6 separate regions of the Homo sapiens genome follow, and all the other regions are reported to be linked to region 6. Evidence: microRNA targets listed by miRTarBase, many of them from high-throughput screens and not tested one by one. Region 6 holds a microRNA gene; each other region holds the end of a gene's coding sequence.

Region 1 (4,991 bases), not on the chromosome of region 6:
TGCTAAATAAGTAAATGCTTGCTTTGTTTAATCTTCATAATAATATTAAATGAGTAGGTATTCTTATTTCTATTTTTCAAAAGAGGATATTGAAATTTAATGGAATTAAGTAATTTGCCTAAGGCCACATAGCTAATAAAACTATGAGTTCCAAGTATGTCTGACTTTGGAGCTCTTTTAATCACTGTCCCATACTGCCTTTCTAGTGATGCTGACACTGAGCTTCTAATATCACATTCATCATTCTGCCTCTCAAAATAATAAGTAAATGATAAGGTTGGTTATCTGTGTGCTTGGAAAAGGTGAGACCATCTTTTCCTTTCTTTTATCTAGTAGCTATGTTAACAAAATGGGAAGTCATCTGGTGCCCAGTAAAACTTGGAAGTTGTGAAAATGCAGAGTGTGGGGAGGTTGTACTAGTACCTGTTTAGAGCTTAGGACTTGGTACGGCCTTCATGGGATCGTGATGCCACCTGAAGAGTAATTAATATATGTGTGAGATAGTATGGTACTATTTCATAAAGACATTTATCAAATTTTAATTACAAAATTGCTTTATTACAGATCCTTGCCAGCTCCTAAAACCTATGGTAGCATGAAAGATGACAGTTGGAAAGATGGCTGTTACTGACCAGCAAAGACAAGAATGCAGAAGTCCACGGCTTCATGGATACCCTTCACCAGGCTAAAAAACAACTTTTATATGCAGACTGTTCAGATAAGACTCTTGGGATTTATAAAATCCCAGCCCTCTCTGTCTTAATTAGCACAAACCGACAGAGATCATCAAACAGCACTTTAATGACATTTAACATCAGATGTGTTTGGTAATCATACAATCACTCTCCATAGAATCACTTTTAGTTTTGTTTAATAGAAACTAGGTTGATTTTTAAAAAATATTTGACAGAGGCCAATATCTGGGCAAATACCTAATGGATGCCAAAGAGAAATGCCCATTTGTAAATGAGAAAAATGCCCATTTGTGCACAAGAAAATGGTGAATTCAGGCTATCCAAAACTTCACATTCAACCTAATTTACTGTATAAATAGTATCAATAAATATTTGTGTTAATGAGAACTAATATTCTGACTAATTATCTAAAGTGTTTCACTAGTACACCAGGAAACTACAGATTGAGATTAGGGGGTGGGAGGAAAGAAACCTGGGCTAGAGATTAAAACATTCCTAAATTTAGCAGAATTTCAGAAATGATTTTTGCAGATTCATTAGAAAAGAAAAATTGTCATTTAATCTTAAGTTTTGGATGTAGCTCACATGTCACCACCACCAGATAGTGTTACAGCATGTATCCATCATGTTGCATTGACACATCAAACTTGTGTGTGTTTGTTTTGATTGCCAAAAGGGCTTAATATCAGTTGTACAATCTTTCTGAACTTTATAGTTCCTGGCTCAGGAAAGATGGCCTTTGCTATTGAAGCCAACTTCTTCACATGCTGTTATCTTTACAGAACTAAGAGATCTTGTTTCTATTAGCAGGTTTTCATGATAGGAAAGAACAAGTAGTGTGTGTCTTTATTCTTGATACAACACCACCTCGGTGCTTGCAACCTGGAACAAAACCATACCATGAGAGAGAGGGGGAAAAAAATCTATGCACTTAACCTACAAAATCTCTGGTGATGACAGTTGTATTGTTGCTATTACATGGCATAACGGTCTATTATGTGGTAGGAAAATATAGCCTGCTAAATCCTACTTAAGTTGATCCACTTTAAACTGAGTAACTGTATAAAACATCTATTGAAAATTCTTTTCCTTTTGACTTAGATTCTGCCTTACATCAATTTTTGCATTTTTGGTAAAAAAAAAACCCTACTACGTATGACTCTAACCTGATACTTGCTCTCTAATGGCTCTTAATATATCCTTGAAATCGGCTATTTCAATTTTATCAGACTTTTACCAGAGTAAAACTTGCTTCTGTAGCAGGCCTCTCATTTTTTATTATGAGGTCTGTTTTTAAATACTTAATTTGAACAGCTCTAAGATATTGTCACTTAGGTCATCTAAAAGCTTTTAGAGATTTGAACATAAGTTCATTTCCTGTTAATCAAAGACATTCCGTAAGTTGGCAAAAGAAATTGGGAGAGAGAAATAGAAGGCTTGATATTCTGGACAGCATTAAGGTTGATAGGTTGATGATAAAAACTTAAAACCAGGACCTCCATTCTGTCATGACTGACACCATGGTAGTCTGTCAGCTTGACCAGTGGAGAGTCATTCATTTAGCACAAGCAGCTGGAGATTTAAACTGCCAGTACTATGTATTTGGTGTATAATGCAAGGAAGAAACTTTATCCTTGAATTTGAGGGTGATGGGGTGGGTCAGGAAAGGATGGCGCCAGAATTCTACATGATAATGAACTAAAAAATGTTGCTTTTCAGAGGAAGATAAAGCATCTTCTTTTGGGAGGGGGGTATCTCATGTCTAAGTAAGTAAAAGAAAGAAGTAGCTACTGTCTCTTTTAAAAACCACGTACAAAACAGAACAAGTCTCAGTTTTCAGTGCAACATTTCAAAAAATATATATGCTGCAATCTAATAATTAAAAGGAATTTTACCTATTATGAAACATATTACATTTTTTAAGTTAGATAATCAGTTTCAAAAGGAGTATTCAGGTTATTTAACTTTGTTTTTAAATGGCTGCATCAGAAAAAAATGTCTATTTTTTTTTATTAAAATATTTCATCACTTGTTAAAACATATTTTTGATCTGAGTTTGGTAAAGTATTATTTTACCTGCTGTTGTACTACCACAGACTGTTGACTTTTAGTTTCTTAAAGAGAAAAATTGCCTTTTTACTAGAAAGCCTTTGTATATTGCAATTTTTCTGTTTGGGAAAATCTAAGGATTTACTGTGGTTAGTCTTACAGAAGAAATGTGGATTTGATAAACTAGTGCCTATGATTTTAACTTATGTTTGATATATAGTAGTAAGGGTTTTATGAATGTTGATTATTTTGTGCCAACAGCCCAGAATTGTCACTTATATGTAAGCAGAAAACAATGAGCTCTGCTTCCAAAGTTATTTAATTTTCTCAGTGTTTGAATGTTATTTTTTGTAAGTGTGTTAATAAAAGTGTAAAGAATTGGAAAAAATATAAATATTCTTAACTCAAGCATTTGCTGGATCATTTTTCTACAAAACTTGTTTGTACAATATAAAACACTCTCTGAAGAGTTGACTTTTTTTCAGTTTCGTATCCTGGAAATCACATTTTGTAAAACTGGGGACCATTCATAATTGTCAGATACTTTTTAAAATTATCTCAATACATCACTTTTATAAAAAAAAAAAGTTTTTTTGAAAGAAAATTAGATACATATGTGGCCCCAGATGTTTGTATAACTCTAGAATGATCTAGACTATGTATGTTTAAATTAACTTTTTATTGAATGTACAGGTGTCCATTTTTGACGTTAAGCATGGTCCTTTAAGGTCACATGACGTTTGATTTGCAAACATTTCTATAGCCGAACTTGTATATGTGGTTGCCTCCTTAATAAACAGCCTGACCATAATGTTTATTATTAAATTTATATTCTTTAAGTGTTTAATTAATCTCTGGATATGGTAAGATTCCTTTTTTCCTCTCAGTTGCCTACACTTGGTTTTAATAAATTACTCAGTTGAGTTTTTCTTTAACCACAGAAACCCAAATCATATTGCCCTTTCAGATTTAGTCTTCATGGGGTTGGATTATGTCTTATATTTTCTCTGTCAGAGTTATTTCATATATGGATTTTACTTGAAGGAAATTTACAGTTTACTCTAAATTGATTTGTTCTTGGAACTTTTTTACCTGCTGTGAATTGATACCTAGTTATAAAAAGCTAGCATTTGCCTAGATCATAACTATGTATGGTATCTAGTTAGAAAAAAACAAGCAAAAAGCTATTATGAGTTTCCAAGAGGGACAATTAATGCATTTTCATACCAAATGCGAATATTTAGGTGATCACGTGCATCTTTTCTTGTATGGATGGAAAAATCAAGAATTGTACACTGTTTAATGAGTTCTCCATATTCCTTTAGGAGATATTTGCTTTGCAATTACATGTTACAATTAGAATAATTACAATTAAAATAATATTACATGTTACAATTAGATTAATAGTGATGAGAGGGAAAAAAGACACCCTTCTGTTTTTTTCTCTCAAGCCAGTCTAAAAACTTGAAGAGCCATTTAAAATTAAATGTCACTATACTTGTATTATAAATCAATACATAAGTTTAAACCTGTTATATACTCAGTGCAACAGAAAAACCCATATGGAGGTTCAACCACTGATGTATTTTGAATGATCCTAAATATAAGTCTTGGGTGGCTAAATGGCCCTCTGCTTACCAGTCTGAAAATGAAACCGATTATACTCATCGGCCTTATTTACTGTAATACAAACTGGTTAAAACTATGTTAACTGAATGCTAGTTTGAAACAAATTATCTACATTAAGTCATCTTAATGTTTTCTCTTTAAAAGAAATAAAAAAATCTGTTTCTTCTGATTTCGAAAGTAATAGAAACTCTGCTGTAGAACATAAACTAAAAATATTAAAAAGTATAAAGGTAAAAAATGATAGTTGTCTGCAATCCCATAATCCGGAAATATTGAAGTACTGTCCGTAACATGGTTATGACATGTTAAGTGGAAGGGTAGAAGGTCTTTTTTTTTTTAAGGAGAAAATGTTTCTTTTAAATAAATGTTTCTTATGTAAAAATGTTGACATGAGTTTGCTTTTGCACAGAAGTATACATTAACTGCTATTGAAAGCTTGGCATATATCTTAATTCCTGATTTTAGATATTTCTTGATAAAACTATCGTATGTATTGTTTGTATTGTTTATAACATTAATTGGTTTTTTACAATTTATACTTTTTTTTTTTTTTTAAACAGTCTTGCTCTGTTGCTCAAGCTGGTGGAGTGCAGTGGCATGATCTCGGCTCACTGCAAC
Region 2 (4,991 bases), not on the chromosome of region 6:
ACAATTTTGTGGTTCATTTTCTCAATAAATTCTGATTGCTGAGCCCAAAAGCATTTGCAGTTAACACCACCAAATCAGCTGTAGTTAAAAATTCTCAATTTTCTTTGGCTAGTTTGAAATTTGTCAAAATATATATAAATAAAAACCCCAGAGATAGAGTCACTCTTTCCTAACAGTGAGACCTCTGTCACTTCTCCATTTGGAAGAAAAGAAACTCTAGCGCTAGAAACATCACCCTGAAGGAGGTGAAAGCAGTGTTCCTTCAGCATCAAAACTGGGGCCAGGGAGGGGCCTCCCTTTGACTTACCCCACCTTCCTATCTGGATTGTGGAGTGTTACTAACCTCCACAAATGGTCTTAGTTTTTTACTATATCTAAATAAAATAAAGGTAAGCCTGGACGCAGTGGCCATGCCTGTAATCTCATCACTTTGGGAGGCCGAGGTGGGTGGATCACCTGAGGTCAGGAATTTGAGACCAGCCTGGCCAACATGGCGAAACCCCGTCTCTATGAAAACTACAAAAATTAGCCCAGCGTGGTGGCACATACCAGTAATCCCAGCTACTCAGGAGGCTGAGGCAGGAGAATCACTCGAACGCAGGAGGCAGAGGTTGCAGTGAGCTGACGTGGTGCCACTGCACTCCAGCCTGGGTGACAGAGTGAGACTCCGTCTCAAATAAATAAAATAAAATAAAATAAAAGTAGCAGTTTCATTTGTATAAGGTCCAATGCTGAATGCCACTTATTTGGGGTTAGAGGTCAAAGAAAGTTTGCATGTCTGCTATGGTGTGTAGGGTTCACCACCTTAGTTCTGAGTTCCTCATTCCCATTCTTAAATCCTCATTCAAGACCTGTCTCAGTCACAGGCTTATGGGACGATAAAGAGGGATGTAAAAGGGAGAGGTGGGACATTTTTCCTGCTTTATAGCTTTGTCTAAGTTTGGCTCTGGCTTCATTAAGGAGCCAAGTGGGAAATACACTCACGGAGCTCCAGCCCCTGCCCTCTGGTCCTCACTGTTGTGAACATGTTGGAGATTAGCTCAGTGCCCTTCCTATTTCCGTTGGTTTTCTGGCACCTCTTATTCTAGTTCCGCTATTAGAATAGCCTATGAAAGAGGATCACATACAGCAAGCACAGGGGAAACACTCCAGAACCAACCACTGAATGAATTACTTGGCTCTATACCACGTTCTTTTATTCCTTCTCCCTTTATTTTCTAGGTTAAATTTATTCTTGTATCATCTTAACATCTGAAACTATTTTTATTACTATTTTATCTTACTTCTAATGCATACTTAAAATACTTCTGATTGTACAGCAGTTTTACCATAAACCTTGCATGTCATTTTCTGATGAATCATGAATAACTCAACCAGACACAGCGTGAGGTCAACAGCAAACATCTGTGTCCTTGGAGGCGGCCTTCTCCCCTTCACGCAGCTGGCTGGCATCAGCTAAACAGCCAGTTATTTAACACACTCAAGCTGTGCACCAGGGCAGGCTGACCAGTGCTTACTGCTGAATATCTTACACATTAAAACAGGAAGATGAAACCAGAAAAAGAATACAAGGGTTAATTACTAGCTTATTAGTAGTTCCATTTTTCTTCCAAAGAAAACAGTTCTGTTGAGTCTCAGGTGGATGTTGGGTAGAAGCAGGACAGCCAGTCAGCGCCGCTTTGAAGTGTGGCTGCAGGGCTTGCGCTCTCCCCAATTCAGCTGTTGAAGCAGGGAAGAGACTTCAAAGCCGGCTTGCTGTTGTTCCTGCCAGTGGGGTGTGTGCAATTCCCATCAGTTTGCTTTAAGGAAAAAACGGAGAGGAATTCATCTCCTGTCACTTGCCAGGGCTTGATGCTCATCAAATAATCTACTAGTTTGTAGTTAGGACCATCTCTATCTAGTGGACACAAAGGAAATTCATTGTGTGACTTACGTTTATTTATGTACATTAATTTTACACATCTGAGATAGCCAGTTTGTGTAATTTGTCCAGATTGTGCCACATGTCAGTGACGAGTAAACCACTCCTACTGCTGATTAAATTCACTTGTGGAAATATACAGTAGCTCTCCTAGGCAAAGGCAAGTTTAGAAGATTGTCCCCTTGTTGCTCTGTTACTACAACCCATAATTACAACTGTTTACAATCCTTTAGTCAGATTTAAATTCAACATGTAGGAAGTGCGCTCAAACTCCTTTGTGAGTTAAGAATTATTCTGTTTGGTCAATTCACTTTGTACTATATATACATTTTTGAACAACACATTTTTAAAAGTAAATGCAATTTCCCTGAATGATTTTATTTGGTCTAAACCTTAATTTCCATTTAAAATGTATATAGTTTATTTCACAATAAGGGGAAAATGAAATACTTGAAGCCATTATTAACTTTTTTTTTTTTTTCTGAGACGAAGTCTTGCTCTGTCGCCTAGGCTGGAATGCAGTGGTGTGATCTTGGCTCATTGCAACCTCCACCTCTCAGATTCGAGCAATTCTCCTGCCTCAGCCTCCTGAGTAGCTGGGATTACAGGCGCATGCCACCACACCCAGCGAATTTTTGTATTCTTCGTAGAGATTGGGTTTAACCACGTTGGCCAGGCTGGTCTCAAACTCCTGACCTCGTGATCCTCCCACCTTGGCCTCCCAAAGTGCTGGGATTTCAGGCGTGAGCCACCGTGCCCAGCCAGCTCACTCTTATAATTGAAAATAGCTCTAGTTCAAAAACGGATTCTTTTGACTTATGTGGACAATTAAACTTCCCCACTATTACCCAGTCAGCTTTTATTTAAATAAACATGAAAAATTAGGTAAAAACATTTCATTGTACAGTACAGCATGGGAAAAGATATGAGGCTCTTTAGGAAAGCTTAGCATGCCAAAAATGCAGCAGTAACCAGACAGCAACATTCACCAGTGGCAGTAATACTGCCTCGCCAGTGGTAGCACTACTACCGCAGAGTTGCCAACACCAATACACAGGCATCCATTTATTCAACAGCAGGTCCCCAGTATGGCCTAAAGTAGAGCTACCTGGTAGAAATGAAACGGGGATAAAAACAAACTCGCTCCTGGGAGCATAATGAGGAAAAATCTAGTTACAGAAAGCTTCTAAAATTAGCACAGGAGTATGCATCATGCTGTAGAAAAGACGGTCTACCATACAAGTTCTGAAGAAGCAAAGATCATTAATTAAAGAGCTGTTAACAGAATATTCAGGAGGCTGTGGCAGGAGAATCGTTTAAACCCGGGAGGTGGAAGTTGCAGTGAGCAGAGATTGTGCCACTGCACTCCAGTCTGGGCAACAGACTCTGTCTCAAAAAAAAAAAAAAAAAAAGAGCTGTTAACAACAAATTAATCTGTTATTGATCTGACACTTATCACTCACAGAATACAATGAAACAGGAAGTTATTATTGAAATAATAACTTGCATTTTTATTTTTTAATATTGCAAATGGCATAAACTCCAGGATTCCCACTTCCCAAGATGTGTTTTTATTTCTCACTGATTGTATCCTGAAGGAATCACAGGTCTTGGCAAGGTCAAGTCACCATCGCTGGTTACACATATCCTGGATATGTGCAGGTTCCCTGTGTCAAGGCCTTTTGAGCCACTTGGAGATGTAATTTAAAAAGGCAAAACAATGCACAGAACAATTGGGGAAAAGTTACAAGTAAAATAATTTTATGCAGACAGAAATGTTTTTAAAGCTGTTCATGATTTAGTAGAAAGAATCAGGAGCTTGAAACAATTACTTCTGTTGCTCTTTTTCTGAGGTTTCATTCCAATGAGAGTTGCACACTGTCAGCTTGGTTTTGTGGCTGCTGATAGTCGTACTTTCTTGCTATTCACAACAAGAAAAAGAAGAGATAAAATTAATAAAACTGCAAAATGATTACTACTTAACAATATTACATTACAGTCAAGTCATGATTCTCAATGAAGAATTAGTTTTTGTCTGTTTGTTTCAGAGATAGAGTCTCCCTCTGATACCCAGGCTGCAGTGCAGTGGCACAATCACAGCTCACTGCAGCTTCAACCTCTTGTGCTCAAGCAATCCTCCCACCTCAGCTTCCCAGGTAGCTGAGACCACAGACAGACACCACCACACCCGGCTAATTTTTTATTTTTTGCAGAGATAGGGTCTCGCCATGTTGCCCAGGCTGGTCTTGAACTCCTGGCCTCAAGTGATCCTCTTGCTTTGGCCTCTTAAAGTGCTGGGATTACAGATGTGAGCCACTGTACCCCGCTAAGTAATTAGTCTAGAATTAAAACAATTTTGTTTCTTTGGAAAAGATGTATTACACTTCATGATCCTCTAATTTCTCAACACTGCTGATGCCCATTTTTATATGTTTATTATTATTATTCATGTATCAGGATTATTCATAGCTTTAAAATATAAACATTAAGCTATTAAAATTTCAAAACTGTATTTATTTTTGAGACAGTGTCTCACTCTGTCACCCAAGTTGGAGTGCAGTGGCACAATCATGGCTCACTGCTGCTTTGACCTCCCAGGCTCAAACAATCCTGCCACGTCAGCCTCCCAAGTAGCTGGGACTACTGGTGGACATCACCACACCCAGCTAATTTTTTTTATTTTTAGTATAGACAGGGTTTCACCATGTTGCCCAGGCTGGTCTTTGAACTCTTGGGCTCAAACGATCATCCTGCCTTGGCCTCCCAAAGTGCTGGGATTACAGGTGTGAGCCATCATGCCTGACCTAAGCTATTAAAATTAATGTTTAGTAATTTCTTCCTTTATTACCTGTCATTTCCATCTTAAAGTTAATAATAATGCTTTTGTCCACACATAAGGAATTTGACTATATTTTAACTTAAAAACCTAACAGGCTTATTGTTGATTAAACATATAATAAATGTCTTCAATATAAACTAGAAGAAAAAATAGATATGCAATTCTGTCTTCTTTTTGTACTTCTAAGAAACGTTAATTGAAGAAAAACTGTCTTAACTTGAAACTAGAGAA
Region 3 (4,820 bases), not on the chromosome of region 6:
CTTATGGAAAAAGTTGTCTCCCCCATCGGAACACCGGCTCCCATAAGGCAGGTGTTGCTTCCATCAGACTCAGACTTTCCCTCCCATCAGACTCAGAGTTTCCCTCATCCTTCAGACTGTGGTTTCCGAAAGCTACAGCCACAGGACCTCCTTGCCCAGAAGCAGAGGGCAGCAGTCCTCCATGACTCTCTTGTGCCCTCTGTTGTTGCAGAAAGAGCACAAAATTCTCAGAGAAGCTGCTATCAGAAAGTGGCTCCACGGCAAGCTGCACCCAGGCCACTCTCTGGTCTCCAATACCAAGCAAGCCCGGGCCACCGCCCTCTCCAAGACCCCAGAGCAACGGGAATCGCAGCGTTCCAGGAGCTTCCACCCCTCTGTGGATGCACGCCTGCAATGCATTCCACAGCCCACGGAGATGCCCAAGCCCATCTACAGGAAGCCCACGGTCAAGCGGCCCACAATGTGGAATGTTAGCAACAACCCCGCCAGACCCCCCACCACCCAGATCAGCCACTCGCAGGGCATCCGCCTGGGCGTGCATCCAGACCCCACTCCGGAGCACGACTTCAGCAGCTTCCTGGAGGTGAGGCCTGATGGGCACGGCGGTGCGCGGCTGCACACAGTGGACGGCCACTGGGTGGCGCCCGTGCCGCGGCTGCCTTTTGAGGTGCTGCTGCGCATGCTGTACCCACGTGTATGGCCATACAGAATGAAGGTGCCCCAGGGCTTTTACCCCATCAGCATGAGGGAAGTGCCCAGGAAGCGGCACCTGGGTGACAACACCTTCTGGACCGACACTCTGGCCATGAACCTGCGTGACACATTCGATGAAGCCTTCCTGGCAGCTGTGCGATCTCATCAAGGACTCCCCACCCTGCCCTCCCCACAAACCAACCCATAAAGTTATTATGGCTACCTCTCCCCCTGAGGCAGCCCAGTGAAGGCTGAAGTGTGGCAATTCACGTTGTGGGTGGCGAGGAAAGGGGGAGGGGTGCCTATGGGCTTCCCACTCCCAAGCTCGAGGAGTCACCCTTCCCAATCAAAAGCCCAGACCCCAGGCCTCCCTTTTCTCTGCAAATAAATCTCTTGGCACCCCCCCACCGCCGCCAGGAAATCCAAGTTAGGTTGAGAGTGGGGGGTCAGACACTATTCTTCACCTTGGCATTGTAAAAGTTGTCACATTTTGGCACCCCCACTGCCCTCCCAGCCCTAAGGGCCCAGGCTTCCAGGATGGAAGGACCCACTGGGAAATTCTGTTTCTTGTTCAGATTAAGCCCTTCCTGCTGCAGGCTCTAAGCTGAGACCCAGAATGGGGTGGAGGGCAACTAATATGTCCCCCTGGCATGGGCTTCCCTGCTACTCTGGGCTGCCATCCTTATTCCCAGCGGCTACTGAGGTTTCTGCAGTTCAGGGAGGCATGGGCAGTACATCAAGGGAGGGGAGGGATGTGTGGTTTCCATTCGAGTCTATGAAAGCACTTGTACTTCCTCCAGGAAGTTAACTGGCTTCCCTGTATCCCCTTGTACACATCACTACAATTCATTCATTAAACAAACATTTATTGAGTGCTTTCTAGGTGCCAGGCACCAAGCCAGGCACTGTTAATACAAAAATTCCAACACAATCCTTGCCCTCAAGGAGCTTACAGTCTACTGGGGAGATGACCATTAGGCAGGCAAGTGAGCCCAGAGTGATCTGTGTAGTATGCCAGGGTGGGGGTCGGGAGGAGAGAGTATAGCCAAAGCTCCTTGGAGGAAGTCAAGTCTAAGTTGAGATTTGACAGAGAAAGTACCCTTTCTCTGTGACCAAAAGAAAGGAGGAATCAGAGTGGCAATGGAGAGCCACTGCATCTCTGGATACAGGAGGCTGGGACCCAGAATGCAAGAAGGCAAGTGATGAGACCAGAGAGGTGAGCAGGGACAAGGACACCATGAGTCTCACAAGCCATGCTGAGGGGTCCAGACTTTATCCTGAGGGCAGCAGGGAGCCAAGGAAGGTTTTAGGCCAGAGAGTGACTTGATCAACTATGCAATGCATTTTAGGAAGATAGCTCTGGCCACATGATAGAGAAGCAGTAGGAGGCTGTCACGATAATCCAGGTGAAAGCTGATGACAGTGGGAGTGGCTCAAATCAAGAGATGTTAAGGTAGACCTGACCGTTTTGAGAGATTGGATGTGGTGGGCAGAAAGAGAAAACAGGAATAGAATAAGTTTCCTGTCTGGCTCCTGAGTGATCTCGGGGTCAAGGGAAGTACCCAGAAGGGGCAGGTTTGCAGAAGACAGCAAGTACCATCTGGGCCATGGACCTGAATTGTCTGTGCACCTAGAGGGCAGCAAAACTGTGGTTCAGGTGATCAGGAAGGATGTTGGGGCTGGAGGTCAACTCTAAATTCCTCACCATCCTTGAAACCATCCAGATGGATGGGCTTCCCTAGGGAGCCCACAGCAGAACCCTGAAAGACCCTACTGTGCATGGGCAAGTGGAGAAGCCTGCACGGAAGCCTGAAAGGAACAGCCAGGGAGGTAGGACAACTAGCCACAGAGGTGCCAGGGAAGTGCCATCCAAGAAGCAAGGGGTGATCAGCCATGTCAAATGCTGCCCAGATCTAGTAAGACAGGAAAGGGGTCTGCTGGATTTAGCAAGCCCTGGGAGAACACTGGCAGTAGAGTGGAGGGGGCGAAGCCACATCATCAAGGTGAGGGACCAAGCAGCAGAGGGAGGAAAGTAGGGCCAGCTGTCAGCCCAATGGGAGGATGATGCAGGCTGCCAGTATCCCCTGCCTTGTCTATCCTGGTGTGCATAGGAGAAAAGGGCCTGGCAATCTCGTTCACACTAAGAGGAGACCAACATGTGCTCTTCCTCTCAGGGAAAGGGGAAAGCTGGTATTCTTAAGAGAAGGTAAATGCTAAAGCCAAGGAAATGAAGGGCTATGATGGAACTCCAGGCATGATATAGAGGAAATATTTTCAAGCACAGGGGTTTTTCCAGTGGCTTAAATGTATCACATGTGTACAGTTCATCTCTGTACCTGCCAGCCTCACTTTGAGGTATAGAACATGGCCAGAAATGGCTCTCATAGGGACTTCATTCCAATATGTACTGTTGAGCACTTGCAAGGCACTATAGTTGGAGTGCAAGGTCAACAAATGCAGGTCTGTGCCCAAGACCTGGCCTGCCTTCTTAGAAGGCAGATATATCTCCCCAGGAGCCAAGAGTGCACAGACGGGCCAGGGCTTGGATGCTCTTAGAGTGACAAACAGCTTCTCCCATTAGTCCCATTTCTTTAAAAACAGGCTGCCTGGAAGCTAATTTTTATTTTGTTTCTCCTTGAGCCTAAGATAGTATTCAGCCAGAAACCACTCCTTTTCCCAGAGGAAGATTTATAAATAGGATATTGTAGATGTTCTTCTGAAAATCTAGCCCAGTCCTAAATTGTCCCCTCTCCTACTCCCAGTTTGACAGTCACGGAGCCTTGGGGAAAGAGATGGAAGAGAGTGCATCAGAGAGGCTGCCTATAGCCCCACTTCCCACTCCTTGAGCAGGCTCAGCTCCTCACCCCTGCCCCCTTCCCATTAAGGGCCACAAGAACAGTCCCTTGGGAAGGGCAAGACCCAAACCCAGAAAAGGAGTCCCTGGAGCAGAAAAGTGAGTCCAGTCCAGAGCAGAAGGTTAGCAGGAAGAAAGGAAGATGAACTGTCAGGGTATTAAGGCAAACAGTGCCACCTAGAAGCGAAGCTTTATTCAAACGGAAATCTGCACTTGGACAGAAATCACCGTTCAACAGCAAAAACTATTTCTGTTGGACATGCCAAGCCATGGCCCCTCCCCATGGCCACCTGCCCAGAGAACTTGTCACCATCTGCTCTTAAGCTTCACAGACCCTGCCCTGCCTGCCCCAGCGGGGCCAGAACCTCCTGACCCACCTTGGAAGGGACAGGGGAGGACTGAGGGACCTCGGCCTCCTGGCTAAGCAGGCTCTGCCACCCTCCTTGGTGCCCTCTGAGGTTACAGCCTCTTGAAGCATCAGATCTGAGCCAAGCTGAGCCCCCCAAGGAGGGTGGGGATGGGGCTCCAGAGTTGAGGGGAAGAAAGCCAGGGCAGGTGGTAGGTGCCTTCCCGACTTCTGGTCCCCACCTGGCATAGAGGCCCAGGGGCCTGACTCTCCTGATCTTGCCCCCCACATCCTGCCTGCATGGGGGTCAGTATATCTTCTGACGACTGGGTAGAATGGCCTCTTTGATGAAGGAGAAGACAACCAGGATCCCTAAGCGTTTGCCCCGCTTGCCTTTGGTGAAATAATTGGAGACGACATCATCTGTGGAGATACAGGCAAGAATATGAGAGAGAGAGAGAGTGTGTGTGTGTGTGTGCGCATGTGTGTGAACACGGCCCTCCCAACCCCGAGTCCAGGTGTCTCCAACACAGGGCTAGATTCAGGTTCCCTCAGTGGACCCCTGCCAACCCAGGCCTTGCTGGCTTGCCCCCACCTGGGCCCCTTACAAATCCCTTCTCACCTCCTGGCTGCATGGTAGAGGGCAGGACGTTCTCCCCGGCCGAAAGTGACACAAAAAACGCAAACGGAATTATCCACAGGCAGAAAGTGAAATAGGCCAGGACCTGGCAACAAGAGAGACTGAGAAGAGGGTGCCCCGGAGGTGCCAAGAGTGGGCTGGGTGTGGTGACTGCGTGTTGGTCAAGAGTGCACAGGGGGCCACACCTGATCTCCAAAGGGGGCCCAGGCCTGGGAAGCAGGGAACGCCACCCTCAGACATGGAAATCCTTCTGTGGGGAAAGGTGGAGGCTGAAAATGACTGAATGT
Region 4 (4,991 bases), not on the chromosome of region 6:
ATGTATATATATAAAATACATCCAAAGTGAGAAACTAAATAAGGCTGAGCCTCAAAATGAATATAAATCAAAGGCCTAATCTTTTCTTCCCACCCCCACCCAGCCATCCTGTGTGCCCTCTTCCCCTTGGAGGCCACTGCCCTAAGTGAGGATCAGCATCGACTCCACCACAGCCCACTTTAGTGGTGACAACTTTTAATCCACGGAAGCAGTTTTTCAAAGTGAAAACTGTTTCAAATCACGAAGCTTACCACTTAGACAATTCAGACAAGGTAATGCTCATTTAGACTGACACAGGTATGAAAATTCCAATCCCTTCTTTTCACTATCATTGTATCTGACACACACATCACCTTCCTAGGCACTATGACACTATCCTGGGAGAAGCAAATGTGTACAAAGAAGCACAATCCTGCTCTCTCCCCACACTTCACATAAACCAGTATAGTCCCCCTGTAGTCAAGGCTTCAGATGTCAATTTTCTGTTGGAGACAGCGTCTTGCTACGTTACTCAGGCTGAAGTGCAGTGGCCATTCACAGAAATGATCATAGCATACTGTAGCCTTGAACTTCTGGCTTCAAGCGATCCTGCTGCCTCTAAGCCTCCCAAGCAGCTGGGACTAAAGGTGCATATCACCATGCCCAGCTTGATGTGAATTTTTAAGCAATAATGCCTCATTAGGCCGGGTGCAGTGGCTCACGCCTGTAATCCTAGCACTTTGGGAGGCTGAGGCAGGTGGATTACGAAGTCAGGAGTTTGAGTCCAGCCTGGCCAATATGGTGAAACCCGGTCTCTATTGAAAATAAAAAAAAACTAGCTGGGTGTGGTAGCACGCGCCTGTAGTCTCAGCTACTCGAGAGGCTGAGGCGGAATAATTGCTTGAACCCTGGAGGCGGAGGTAGCAGTGAGCCAAGATTGTGCCACTGCACTCCAGCCTGGACGACAGAGCAAGACTCTGTCTCAAAAAAATAAATAAATAAAATAATGCCTCATTAATTTGGAGTAAGGTTGGGGGGCATAGAAGACAGAATAAATGCAAAAACTAAGTCACAGAGTGTTTCAAGCTTAGGCTCTTTAACTTTCAAGCTTAGACTATTTATCGCTCATTTTAATTATCTTCTTTACTGCACAGGTCAAGATGTCAAGAATACTCTATATTGCCAGGTGCCAGGGCTCATGCCTGTAATCCCAGCACTTTGGGAGGCTGAGGTGGGTGGATTACCTGAGGTCAGGAGTTCGAGACCAGCCTGCCCATCATGGCAAAACCCCATCTCCACTAAAAATACAAAACTTAGATGGGCATGGTGGTGCATGCCTGTAGTCCCAGCTACTGGGGAGGCTGAGGCAGGAGAATTGCTTGATACCTATAATCCCAGCACTTTGGGAGGCCAAGGCAGAAGGACTGCTTGAGGCCAGGAGGACTGCTTGAGGCCAGCCTGGGCAACATAGCAAGAAGCCATCATTACAAAATAAAAATGTTTTAAATTAGCTGGGAATGGTGGCATGCACCTATAGTCCCAGGTACTAGTAAGGCTGAAGCAGGAAGATGGCTTGACCCCAGAAGTTCGAGGCTGCACTGAGCTTTGATCAGGCCGCTGCACTCCAGCCTGGGTGACAGAGCAAGATCCTGTCAATAAATAAATAAATAAATAAATAAATAAATAAAATATATAAATACTTAAATAATCTTTTTAAGAGCAGTACTATTCTGTCTCCAGCAATGTCAAACTATGAGAGTCAAAAATATTTTAAGGTCTGCTGTGTGCTTTCCTCAGAGGGAAGGAAACTAGGCATCCCACTGCAGTTTCATAAATACGTAAATAATCTTTTTAAGAGCAGTACTATTCTTTCTTTTTTTTTTTTTTTTTGACAGAGTCTCGCTCTGTCGCCCAGGCTGCTGGAGTGCAGTGGCGCAACAGAGCAGTACTATTCCATCTCTAGCAATCTCAAACTGTTAAGAGTCAAAAATATTTTTTTTTTTTGAGATGGAGTCTCGCTCTGTCGCCCAGGCTGGAGTGCAGTGGCACTATCTCAGCTCACTGTAAGCTCCGCCTCCCAGGTTCATGCCATTCTCCTGCCTCAGCCTCCCGAGTAGCTGGGACTACCGGCACCCGCCACCACGCTCAGCTAATTTTTTGCATTTTTAGTAGAGATGGGGTTTCACTGTGTTCGCCAGGATGGTCTCGATCTCCTGACCTCGTGATCCGCCCGCTTCGGCCTCCCAAAGTGCTGGGATTACAGGTGTGAGCCACCGCACCCAGCCCAAGAGTCAAAAATATTTTAAGGTCTGCTGTGTGCTTTCCCCAAAAGGAAGGAAACTGTAGGCATCCCACTCCTCCCTCCCAGCAAAGGAGACCAACAGACAAAAAATACAGAATGCTTCTAGGATTTTTTTTTTTAAGGAATAATCTAAATATAAGAAACTATTTCCTTAAAAATCCTGACACTGGAGTTCTGCTACCAAAGACACAGTCAAAGATCTAAATAGCCAGAGTCAAAAAAAAAAAAAAAAAAAAACCCACAAAAGTTTATTTGAGAACAAGAGTGAAAGCTTTTGCACATCTGACAAGGTAGACTTGTTTTACAGTAGATGCCATCCATATTCAGCCCTACCAATACTATCACAAATGAAACATACTATTTCTTACAAAGATATAGGCATAAGTCAAGGACTATGACTAACTAGAGTGAAAGGAAAGGTTAGACCCCAAATCTTATCCCTTAGACCAATCATAACATAGGATGTAAATTAAACCATTCAGTCTTCTAATGTAGTGGTTCTCAACCTGGCTTCTTATCAGAATCCCAGGAACTCTTTTAAAGAAATTCCCAATAACTAGGCTGTACCCCAGTCTCTAGGGATGGGATCCAGGCATGAGTATTTTAAAGCTTCTCAGGTGATTCCAATGTGCAGCCAGACCCTGTCGCAAGTTCACCACAGCACTAGAGGCAGGTAACGATTACTAGCAGATTCCTCAGCCCCAACAAGCCCTCCAAGAAAGGGAGACCTGGTGGGCAACACTGGCTCTCACTGATGCTATCCTTTCACTCCACTTAAGAACGACATAAGTTATCACTTTTGGTATAATTTTGAGACTTTCCATATGCCATGGTGATTTTTAGAGCAATATTTAATCAGGTGAATACCAGCAAAGAGAGAAAATACAGAAAAAGAAATTTCCATAAGGCATGATATGAATAAATAAGTGAAAAAACAATCTCGGGTTTAAAAGTAAAGCATGAGAATTTGAAGCCTGTGAAATTTTATTTATACAAAAGAATAAAAAGTTATTTAAAAAGAACTGATTTAAACTTATGTTTTTCCATTTTTCCTGTTCCTTGAACATGAATCTACTACCAACTCAGAAAGATTTAAGATAGGTAATTACTAAACACTCTTTACCTCCCCTTGCAAAAAACAGAGGCAAGTTTCCCATTTTACTTATGATAAACCAGATTATTTTCAGTTATGAATATTGGCAACTGCATGAAAGAGATGATCAGATATGTCAGCAGGAAAGTATGAGCTGTACAAAGGCATTACAAAAAAACCCCAAAGAAAATAAGATAAAAACAACAAGAGAAAAACAAGAAAACATAAAACAATATAAGAAAATGCCAGATATTTACAGCCTCCATCTGAAATGTGACTTGTGTTCTACTTTCAGCATAAAACAAAACCAGAGAACATTTCTTGAAGGGTATCACAGATGAAGCTGGTGCCAGCCAGTTTTGGGGGAGACATTCATTCTAAGAAGGGAGAAACGCACAGTTAGCAACTTGCTGGGATTACAACATTGTCTTCATCTTCCTGCAGTTCTGTTACTAAAAATGACATAAAGTAAGACCCAATGTCTTACAGAAATGACTTGTTTGTCACCACATTTAGAACAAACTACTCAAAGTCACAGGCACTGGGTCTGGGAGAGCAGAGGTGGATGGCCACGAACTCAGGTGAAGGATGTTTATCTTTGTGAGGTCAGAGAAGGGAAGCAGGGCTCTACAGCCTGGAAGCTTCTGCACTAATGTGTCTTCTAATAGTCCTAAAGAAAGAAAAACAAAAGTCCCAACTTACTCTCGGCAGAACAGTTGTTTGACCCTAAAGGAAAAAAAAAATCTCATAAACAACTCTACTAGGGGACTGCTCTATAGCTAAAGATTATATTTCAGGCCAGGCACAGTGGCTCACACCTGTAATCCCAGCACTTTGGGAAGCCGAGGCAGGGAGATCACGAGGTCAGGAGTTCGAGACCAGCCTGGCCAGCATAGTGAAACCCCGTCTCTACTAAAAATACAAAACATTGGCCAGACATGGTGGTGGGCACCTGTAATTCCAGCTACTCAGGAGGCTGAGGTGGGAGAATCGCTTGAACCTGGAAGGCGGAGGTTGCAGTGAGCCAAGATCGCGCCATTGCACTCCAGCCTGGGTGACAAGAGTGAAACTCTGTTTCAAAAAAAAAAAAAAAAAAAAAGATTGTATTTCAGGCCAGGCGTGGTGGCTCAGGCCTATAATCCCAGCACTTAGGGAGGCCCAGGCGGGCAGATCACTTGAGGTCAGGAGCTCGAGACCAGCCTGGGTAACAAATTAAGACCATGTCTCTACAAAAAACACAAAAATTAGCCAGGTGTGGTGGCTCATGCCTGTGGTCTCAGCTACCCAGGAGTCTGAGGTGGGAGGACGGCTTGAGCCTGGGAGGCAGAGGTTGCAGTGAGCCAAGATCACACCATTGCACTCTAGCCTGGGTGACAGAGCCAGACCCTGTCACACACACAAAAAAAAAATTTAAAAAAAGATTCTATTCCAAATATAATGTACAATATTTCACATCTGAAAATGGTCTGCCTTCTGAGTCCATAAAGGGATTGAAACATCAATTTTGCTCTTATTAGAGCACCTGAATTCACCAGTCCAAAAAAAAAAAGAGCTAGTATTAACAATTTATTATTTAATTAAAGGGAATTTTTCATCATTAAAAATGTATGTGACCGG
Region 5 (4,991 bases), not on the chromosome of region 6:
ATATATGGTTTGCAAATATTTTCTCCCATTTCATAGGTTCTTTCATTTTGCTGATTGTTTCCTTTGCTGTGCAGAAACTTTTTAATTTGATGTAATCTCACTTGTTTACTTTTGTTGCCTGTGCTTTTGGTGTTATATCCAAAAAGTCATTGTCAAAACTAATGTCAAGGGGCTTTTCTCCTATGTTTTCTAAGAGCAGGTGTTGATAATAGGAAGGAAACAACAGGAAATTTAAGGGCAGTAGGACCCTTAACTATTCAAGACTGTTTAAATGGTGTTTGTACTTAAAGTAAAAACTACCTGAGCATATTTTAACATATGCCTCAAGTCTGTAGCGTGGATCTGGATTGCAGATTCTCCAGTGCTCAATCATCCTATATTTGTGGGAAGAGAAGTCTGACATTTCCCAAAGGATTAAGTAATATTGTTTGATATGGAATAAAGTGCCATGTATATTGAGCTTCTTTAGGAGGATAGTTTTATTTATCTTTTTGGATTTCTGTCAAAATAAATGCAAGGGGAGGGAGGCCCAGTGCTCCACTGGTTCCTTGAACAGAGGTGAATTTACTGTGAAACAATGGCTCTTAAGCTTCAGGGGCTCCTGCTTGCGTGAGCTCTAGCCATGTATTTACAAGATCATTGTCATATTTACAGAAGTAAGACATTTTAAACATAATTGATGAATGCCATTGATTAAGACCACTGCCTCTTTTCACTCCCACTTCCCTTGATGTCGGGTGGTGCTGAAGTGGCTGTGGACAAAGAGAAGTTGAGTTGGGGATACATTTGGATTACAGGGATATATTCATGTTGTTCACAGTCACTTCTGTGTTGAGTTACTACTAGCTGTCCTGATTAGGAGTGGCTTCCAGGAATATTCTTATAGACTTCTGTGCTAACTCATCTGGCATCAGGACAGTACATCAATAACAAACTGAAACATCATAAGCTTTAGACTCTGAGAAACCTGGATCCACCTGCTCAATGAGCATAGTTCTTTGACTATCTAGAGTCTGTGCAAACCCGTGAACACCTCAATTTGGCATCCCAAGTAGAAGAGTGGTGATAGAGGATTCTTTGATCCTTTGATCTACTGCCCCACATGTTACTGTCCTGGCCAAGAGCAATGAAAGATCTATTGTTGGAAAACTTTTGGCCTGATTTTACACTATTATTTGAACTACAATCTAATTTAGAACATTTTAGAACATTAGAACATTTAGAACAAGGAGAAAATGTATATTTTTTTCAGTTGCTGTGTATCCTCTCTGCTTTTGTAGCTATGTCTGTATAGCAAAAAGAGAGTGAGATGACTTGACTCTTAGTCTGTATTAATTCCTAATTTAACCCTCCCTACAATCATTTGTTTAGTTCATTACAAAGAGTTACTCTTTCAGCCTATTATATTTGTTGTTGTTTTTATAAAATATTTTTAGTAGAAACAAAAATATTATATAAAAATATAAAAGCTTTCATAAATCCTTAATGTAGAAAACAGAAGTTTTTTAAAAAATAGAATCCACTAAGTTTGTTGTAAATTCTTACCTTTTTTGGCATACAGTATATGCATATTATGTTTAACTTAGTTAAAACATTTTATGACAAAAGTGGATCATATCCATATTGCTTTTAAACTTGTCTTTTTCACCTAACAGTATATCTTGGACATCTTTCTGTGTTCTTTTTAAAGGGCTGTCCAGCATTGGGTGGTGGGGGGAGTGGTCTTGTTAATACCATTTAGTCAATCAATTCCTTATATTTGGGTGTTTTCTGGTTTTGGTGTTTCTTTTCCTTTTTTTTTTTTTTTTAACTATAACAAATGATGCTATAATGAGCATTCTTGTTCATATATCTTTGCACACTTTGGGAGTTGTTTCCCCCGGTAATATAAATTTCTAGCCATGGATTGCAGGATCAAAAGATATTTACATTTAAAAACATTAACAGATGTTCTCAAATTGCCATCTAAATCATTGTACCAATTTATAGACTCGCCAATAATGTATGAGAGTGCACTCTTTCTCCACCCTTGCCAGCCCAGTATTATCAATCACTTTAATCTTTGCCAATCTTGAAAATAGTAGCTAAGGGTTTCTTAATTTTTATTTATTTAACAGTAAAGTTGGACATCTTCTCATACCTTCATATTATTATATTCTTCTGTGGCTTGCCTGTTCATATCCTTTGCCCATTTTGAAAAAAAATTGATTATTTTCTTACTTACTTGTAAAAGTTATTTGGGATTACTTGGGATATTAGCCCTCTGTCTTAGCATGATACTTGGTTACAAAGGACACTTACCATTGCATTATTTTAATATTTCTTACTTTTTCGTTGGATACCATATCATCACTGAACATACTGCATTTTAAACTCTTAAATTAAATTCTGCTATGAAAATCCCTTCAGTTATAGACTCAATGATGCTGCATGTGGGTTATTAATAGCAATAAAAGGAGATGTTTCATAGAGTTAAAACATTACAGAAGTGAGCATTAGTCAAAAATTTACTCAGAAGGTAAACTTGTTCTGTATTAGGGGAGGAAGTTGTCACTTTTCTTCCCTAAGCCAAGGAAGGAGCCTAAGTCGGAAGCAAAGTTTCCATTGCCAAGCTTACATAAGTTCTGTGATTAGAAATTAGTCCTTGTTATAGCCGAGTGCATATCCTGAATAGTTCATTTTTATGTTTCATGAATATACTGCTCAATATTAGGCTCTATATTTAATATTTATATCTAGAAAAGTTAGACAATTTTTTTTTTGAGACAGAGTTTTGCTCTTGTCACCCAGGCTGGAGTGAAATGGCGTGATCTCAGCTCACTGCAACCTCTGTCTCCAGGGTTCCAAGTGATTCTCCTGCCTCAGCCTCCCGAGTAGCTGGTATTACAGGCGCACGCCACCACACCCGGCTAATTTTTGTGTTATTAGTAGAGACGGGGTTTCACCATGTTGGCCAGGCTGGTCTCAAACTCCTGACCTCAAGTGATCCACCCACCTCAGCCTCCCAAAGTGCTAGGATTACAGGTGTGAGCCACTGCACTTGGCCAACAATTTTTAATTGTATAGGAAACTAGCATTTTTGAAGTACTTCTGAATTTAGCACCTAGGTCAAATTACGTTGGATATGTTTTCATGGAAACTGTTGTATTCTCTTATTTTGCATGGTTTGGCTCTTAATTGCTTATAATTCTGGTACATATTGAGTACAAGGAAAATATATTTTAAATATGCATAAGTTAGACTTGCTACAAACATTGAGATTAGAAGTTGCAAACTGACCACTAGGTCATATCTGCTCCACAGGCGTATCTCACATAGTTTGAGAACTATTTTGAACTAGTTGCTAAAGCTTAAAAATAGAGGAATTTCTCTTGAAAAGTGGAATTTTGGATAATAATGGATTTTATATATATATATATATGTTAGTCATGGACTGTCACTACATAGTAGCTATTATTTTTAGACAGAGTAAGTGCTCTCCAATTTGCCAGAGCTCCTGTCATTCTTTAATATATTACAGCTGGCCTACTTCACTCATGTACCTTATGTAGATTCCTCTTTCGTTATTTATAGGTATATATATACATAAAGGCAGCTATATAAAGAAATTTCTTAGTTTTTTCATTAATAAATTCAAGACATCCGAAGCTTCTTTGCTTTATTATTTTTCTGGTACATTCGTCTCCTTAAAAGGAGACATTAGAAGCAGTAAACATCCCAGAGATAGTAACTTTCTTCTTCAGAACTTTTTCCAACAAATCACTCCATTGGCTGATGAAAAAGAAGATGACTGAAAAGGTTTATACTTCCTGGAGTTCCACTATCTTGCGCTGTAATTTCTTTAGGTCTTTCTGTACTTTATATTTCTCTAAATCCATCTTTGTTTTCTGTATTTGTTGGAGGGAGCTGAGAGAGTCATGAATTGATTTAAATCCTGTAAGAGGGTAAAAGAATAGGTACACTTAAACAATGCATTAGAGCTTTTTTTTAAAAAAGTTGCTAATCGGCAGTCCTGCCATAATTGATTATCATTTAATTCCAAGCGCATTAAATTCTATGAAGACCAGCCTAAAATTGTACATAATATATTTCTTGTATGTCATGAAGATCCATTCACAATAGTGTTTCAACTTATATCTAGTTATCTGGTTTCATTGTGAAATTTATTTTTCTCCTCCTCAAATATATTGCATAATTCTATATTGCAAGAGAGAAATTTAAAATATTTTATTCTTTCTGAATGCTTTGATGAGAGACTTGTGTGATTTTTTTTCAGTCTTGTTACCAAATTGAAGGTAAAGATCACAGATGAGATTTTAAATCTTCTCTGAAAGTAGCCTATTTGAGGGACCTAACAGCGGCCCCCTGCTGCCCTCCTCCCTCCTAGCACTTTGTATCTCTCTTATGCATGTCTAGTCACTCCTGACCACAGACCTATCAAACCTCAAGGCCTTAGGGCACAACCCATTTGTTATTCACTGGGGCCTTTCACAGAGTCGTTTCTCAACACATTTTTATTAAAGGCATAAAGCAGCAAACCATTAATTTGAAGTTCCCCCTTTTTAGAACTCCTCCTCATTAGTAAAATGAAAGAACTTGCAGGTGGTAAATTCCTTTTCAGTTCACCCTGAAGTTTTACTAATGGAATAAGTAAAATTAAACCTCTGATAGTTAAACAGAAAGCAGAGCCTTTAAAAGAAGGGCCAGTTAAGTTTGGGACATGATTCCTGGCCAGATAATTCATTATTTTGATATGACGGTGGGAGGGGTATATTGTGAGGGTTGAATTTCCAGGCAGCAAATTCTACTTATATGCCAGGAACATCTGGCAGATTGAGACCCTCATGTCCTCCCAAGGCACCTCCAAGGTATCTCTATACAGGACCAAATTTGGTAGAATTTACACATGAATTTTTCTGAGATCTAGAAGACAAAAGAAAAAAAATTACTTGGGACTTTCTCTAGGAAAGAAACTCTTCTGAGTCCTGGTA
Region 6 (4,991 bases):
ATATTTCAACTTTATGATGAGTATCTATCTATCATCTATCTATCTATCTATCTATCTATCTATCTATCTATCTATCTATCTATCATCTACTTTATCTATCTATCTCACACACACTATATATATAACATATTTACAATGTTTAGGGTATTTTATTTTGGTACCAATTTTCCAGGACTATATATCTATATTTCATATTTTGGATATCTTGTCCTATTCCTCGATGACTTACATTGCTTTGCTAAACGTTTTCTCCTTGGAAATATGCTGTTCTTTGTTTCTCCCTCACAATAAGTGGAGCACAGCGTTTCTGGAGTCAGGAGCGATTTTGGCCCCGAAGGGGCATTTGGAAATGCCTGCATGCAGTTTTGATAGTCACGGTTCAGCTTTGGGGGGCGTGCACTGGTATCCGGTGGGTAGAGGCTGGGGACGCTGCTACATACCCTGCAATGCCAAGGACCGCCCCCTTCCCCCAGCGAAGAATTGTCTGCTTTGCTGAGGGTCGCTAGTGCTGATATTGAGGGGCCCTGCTCTAGTGCCTGGACTTGGGGATGTTCTCCTCGTGTTTGTAGCCAGGTGTCACCTAGGGATCTGCATTTCTGAAAAGCACGTGAGTAAATTCGTCTGTGGTGGTGAAATAGCGCAAGCCCTCTGCCTGGGCTCCCCTCTGGCTCACCCTGGCCATATGCATAAGCCCTGGCTCCGTGTCTGAGAAGTGAGGGGTGGAGGGAAGGACCATAATAGATTCCTTGCGTGGAGCTCCTGTGAAGATTAGAAGGGTGTGGCCCATGTGTTGTATAACTGGGTGGCTGGTGCACAGCAGCTGAGGAATAGAGATAAGCTGTTAGTATAAGCAGTAAATAAAATGGACCATACATTAGCAGTAGTAATACCTAATATTTTTGTAGCGCCTACCTTATGCCAGCCATTGCTCTGAATGCTTCTCTGTGTTAACTCACAGCTTCCTTATCAGAACCCGATGAGGCAGGTATTTTTTTTCTTTTTTTTTTTTTGAGGCGAAGTCTGGCTCTGTCGCCCAGGCTGGAGTGCAGTGGCGCCATTTCGGCTCACTGCAAGCTCCGTCTCCCGGGTTCACACCATTCTCCTGCCTCAGTCTCCCGAGTAGCTGGGACTACAGGCGCCTGCCACCACGCCCGGCTAATTTTTTGTATTTTTGGTAGAGACGGGGTTTCCCCGTGTTAGCCAGGATGGTCTCGATCTCCTGACCTCGTGATCCGCCCGCCTTGGCCTCCCAAAGTGCTGGGATTACAGGCGTGAGCCACCGGGCCCGGCCGAGGCAGGTATTTTTATTGTCCCCATTTTACAGATGCAGAACCTGAGCCCAGGGAACTTAAACTCCTCACTTAAGATCATGCTATGGATTGAAATGTGTCCTTCCAAAATTCGTGTTGGATTCGTGTTGAAGCCCTAACGTGCAATATGACTGCATTTGGAAATGTGGCCTCTAAGGAATCAAGGCTAAATGAAATCAGAAGGGTGGACCTTGATCTGATAGAATTAGTGTCATTATAAAAAGAGACACCAAAGAGCTCTCTCTGTCTCTCTCTCAACCGTGTGAGGACACAGCAAGAAGGCAGCTGTTGGCTAGCCAGAAAGAGTGGTCTCACCAGAAATGCATCGGCCAGAACCTTGATCTTGGACTTCCAGCCTCCAGAACTATGAGAAAACAAAAATGACTGTTGTTTAAGCCACCTAGTCTGTGGTGTTTTGGTTACCACAGCCCAAGCTGACTAATACAGATCATCTTCTAGTAAGTGGGAGAATGAGGACTTAACCCTCGCAAACTCAAGTCCAGAGTTTAGACTTTTAACTTTTCTATTTTCATACTTTCTACTGTCTCTTCTGCTGTATAAGTGATGTTATAGTTTTATGAAATATTTATATGTAATATAATAGAACATGGAATAGAAAATATTTCCTGCATATTCATTCTTGCAATGAGAAAATTATAACTAGGCAAGGAATATATATGGTACAATCTAAAGTGAGGATTAGGCCGGGCGCTGTGGCTCATGCCTGTAATCCCAGCAGTTTGGGAGGCTGAGGTGGGTGGATCACTTGAGGTCAGGTGTTTGAGACCATCCTGGCCAACATGGCGCAACCCTGTCTCTACTAAAAATACAAAAATTAGCCAGATGTGGAGGCACAATGCCTGTAATCCCAGCTACTTGGGAGGCTGAGGCAGGAGAATCGCTTGAACCCAGGAAGCGGAGGTTGCAGTGAGCCGAGATCACACCGCTGCACTCCAGCCTGAGCGACAGAATGAAACTCTCTCAATAAGTAAATAAATAAATCAAATAAAGTGAGGATTGAACAATTGAAGGGTCACTGATAATCACTGTAAGGATTTAGCGCCAGGGCTTGGCAGTACTCAGGTGAGTAAACGTTAGTTATTGCTAATATTATTCATTTATCTTATTATTGTTATAATTGAGTTAGTTCTGTGTTCTGATCCATGAGTGAATTGGCCTCCTGGAAGCTGCCCTCAAATCCCTCCTCTTTTACACAGTGATTGATGGTCCATGTCGCCTCCTTGTAGTTACAGATTAATAATAGGCCCTCCTCCTGGAAACAGGCCAAACGCCAAACCCCATGCAAGCTGGCCTGGAGAAAGCACTTCTGAAACTTCATCACCAGCAGGCAGCTAGACGACTGTTGAATGGGAGGGGGGGTGGTTTTGAAGGGTGGAATGGTGACAGAATTAGTCACCAAGTAAACAAGCAACACCTTCGATCAATGCAATGGAATGTAGGTAACCCAGGGGCCCTCCTCACTGCTCAGCTGAGGGTGACGCCAACATGGCCAGGCTGGCACACCCAGCAGAACCAGCCCTCTGCCCCCAACATCAGTAAAGACCTTGCAGGAGGAAAGAACAACCCCGCTTTGCCTGCCCCACAGTCCTGCAGCTCCATGTGTGTGCCCGCACAGTGCTAGGAACACGGCAGCTATTATCAGGAGTGCCAGGTACAGTGCTACAGGTTGCCTCCTGTACAAGGGGACACAGGGAACTGAAATCCAGTCCTCACTGAACTGCCCAAGCCCTGATTCCTGGTATGGGACTTTGTGGGTCCAGGGGCAGGGGTGCCTTGATCAAAATCACCTTGGATGTTTTAGGGCTGCTTGGTGATTGATGTTTTGCTTTCGGAGTACTTAATTATGTTTGCACAAACGGATGGTAATCCTAAAAATCTTAGAGCTCGCTCTCATAGTCTTATTATTGCACCAAACATTGTTAAGTGCATGATAATCGCAGGTAATTTTAATTGGAGGCTTACTATGTGCCAGGCAGCACCAGGGTGAGCATAGCAGGACACAAAATATAGGAAGGCAACCATCTCTGGTGCAGAATCGGCAGCAGAGAGTGAGCGCCTCCCTGCATTTTATCCCCCAGGTGCTCACTGGCTTCACCCTTGCCCTGACCCTGGTGCCAGGCACTTCACACACATTGTCTCCTTTTCCCTTGCAGAGTCCCATTATTCCCTGATTGCACAGATAAAGAAACCAAGGCTGAGCAATGCCATCCCCTCATCTCACGAACGTCACCTCCATGAGGGTAGGCACCTTACTAGTCCTACTTGCCCAAGAGTAGCAGTCAGAAAGCTACGGGGAGGCACACCTGGGGTTTGAACCTGGGTCCACGTGACTCAGGCACTCAAATCCTGAACTGCTTCAGGGCAGGGCACTTGGCTTGAAGAGAAGCTGCAGACACAGAGACAATCAAGTCACATCTAATACTCCAGCAGGACAGATGAGCCTGCAAGGTGCAAAGGTACCCCCGCCCCCAACCCAAAGCCTTTTTCAATTCCTCTCCCTCCACATCTCTTGTCATGGTAAAGCAGGCAGAATCCATGGGCTTTAACGGGCCCATTGCTTTTCCCAAAGCTCATGCCTTTTTCCTAAAAACAAAACCCTTCTGGGTTCCAGAACTCTTTGGAAAAAAAGAATCTTCTGTGATTTGGGACATTGGTTTGTTCCCCCACCCTCACTTAAATGAGAAACTACTTTAGCATGCCCCGCCCCGTCTGTTGTCTTTATTTAGGAGGAAGCACCCTCTACATACCCTGAGTATATACACCCAGGGCCTGAAGCTGCTGTGATCAGCTCAGGATCCCCAGGAGGCTGAGGCGGATCAGGCCCTGGACTCCGGGGGAACAATGTAAGGGACACCAAAAAGCTCAGCCATGGAGATGAATAGTATTTTAACATGAAATTTGTGAAAATCAAAATTACCGCTGTTCCTGATCTTATCTTTCTGTAACATGTTCATAGTTTGTTCATCACGGGTGTCTTGCCATTAATTCTGACTTTTAAAAATGTTGTGTTAACATACCGTTTATCTCCATGACTGAGTTTTTTGGCATCCCTTACATTTCGTGCCCAAGGTGAGAGTCTCACTGGCTGCACCCTCATCCCAGGCCCGACTGGACTCCAGTTCCACAGCATCCTTTCCATGAGACCTGGAACCAGATGCAGCTCCCTCTTCACCCAGCTTCATGTTCCTAGTTGTAAAATGGAGACGATGGTAACAGCGAAAACAAGAACCACAGCTAAGAGTTACTAAGTGCACAGGTATTTACGGGCAGTAGAGTCCTCTCAGCCCTTTGATCTCAGTACTGTTATTAGGTTCACTTTACAGATGAGGAAACTGAGGCCCAGAGGGCTGAGGGAACCTGCTCCAGGGCACCCAGCCAGCCCAGGGTGGAGCTGGGGCTGGCATCTGGCGGTGTGGCTGCAGCGCACCCGCATTCTAATCGCAATGACTCTTCCAGGCAGGAAACTGGTTCAGAGGGAGATGTAAACAGCAGGGGTCCTGAAGCCAGGATTTGAATCAGCAGCTGCCTCATAGGGTGGTCTTGAGCGTTAAATAAGATTCACAAAAGGCACTCCACAAGTCCTTTTTCTTGTCCTCCCACTTCTTTAGGCAATGCCTGAGGTGAAGGCTCAGATTCCACTCGGCTATGGGGCATTCTTGC

What was found. The annotated mature microRNA hsa-miR-4756-3p reads CCAGAGAUGGUUGCCUUCCUAU and lies in region 6 at 3,338-3,359, opposite strand. An mRNA with a match to its seed (bases 2 to 7 or 8) in the 3' UTR can be bound and repressed. Matches are read on the target gene's strand: a 7mer-m8 pairs with bases 2 to 8, a 7mer-A1 pairs with bases 2 to 7 and ends in A, and an 8mer does both.
Region 1: the mRNA of SLAIN2 is a reported target of hsa-miR-4756-3p. Seed matches in the 3' UTR shown: 7mer-m8 at 1,639-1,645, 7mer-A1 at 3,204-3,210 and 7mer-m8 at 3,595-3,601.
Region 2: the mRNA of SMIM19 is a reported target of hsa-miR-4756-3p. Seed matches in the 3' UTR shown: 7mer-m8 at 3,268-3,274.
Region 3: the mRNA of TEX261 is a reported target of hsa-miR-4756-3p. Seed matches in the 3' UTR shown: 7mer-A1 at 3,501-3,507.
Region 4: the mRNA of MEAF6 is a reported target of hsa-miR-4756-3p. Seed matches in the 3' UTR shown: 7mer-A1 at 3,981-3,987.
Region 5: the mRNA of FAM81B is a reported target of hsa-miR-4756-3p. Seed matches in the 3' UTR shown: 7mer-m8 at 3,719-3,725.

What each region holds. Positions count from the first base shown.
Region 1 is chr4:48,421,447-48,426,437 of GRCh38, forward strand. It overlaps SLAIN2 (SLAIN motif family member 2), which reads left to right. Exons shown (of 8, transcript NM_020846.2): 8 at 565-4,755. The coding sequence ends at 631. Among named protein-coding and RNA genes, the nearest start is that of SLC10A4, 59 kb to the right of the region's middle.
Region 2 is chr8:42,551,395-42,556,385 of GRCh38, reverse strand. It overlaps SMIM19 (small integral membrane protein 19), which reads right to left. Exons shown (of 4, transcript NM_001135674.2): 4 at 1,191-3,842. The coding sequence ends at 3,778. Among named protein-coding and RNA genes, the nearest start is that of SMIM19, 12 kb to the right of the region's middle. RefSeq lists an enhancer at 1,494-2,015.
Region 3 is chr2:70,984,400-70,989,219 of GRCh38, forward strand. It overlaps TEX261 (testis expressed 261), which reads right to left. Exons shown (of 6, transcript NM_144582.3): 5 at 4,516-4,618; 6 at 1,543-4,316. The coding sequence ends at 4,201. It overlaps ANKRD53 (ankyrin repeat domain 53), which reads left to right. Exons shown (of 6, transcript NM_001115116.2): 6 at 212-1,100. The coding sequence ends at 901. Among named protein-coding and RNA genes, the nearest start is that of TEX261, 8.1 kb to the right of the region's middle. RefSeq lists an enhancer at 1-482.
Region 4 is chr1:37,490,064-37,495,054 of GRCh38, forward strand. MEAF6 (MYST/Esa1 associated factor 6) reads right to left here. Exons shown (of 7, transcript NM_001270875.3): 7 at 1-4,044. The coding sequence ends at 4,036. Among named protein-coding and RNA genes, the nearest start is that of MIR5581, 8.4 kb to the right of the region's middle.
Region 5 is chr5:95,449,092-95,454,082 of GRCh38, reverse strand. It overlaps FAM81B (family with sequence similarity 81 member B), which reads right to left. Exons shown (of 10, transcript NM_152548.3): 10 at 3,642-3,934. The coding sequence ends at 3,801. Among named protein-coding and RNA genes, the nearest start is that of FAM81B, 60 kb to the right of the region's middle.
Region 6 is chr20:54,065,081-54,070,071 of GRCh38, forward strand. MIR4756 (microRNA 4756) reads right to left here and starts at 3,405; the gene lies at 3,328-3,405. All of the region lies in intron 1 of BCAS1 (brain enriched myelin associated protein 1), which reads right to left. RefSeq lists an enhancer at 4,233-4,991.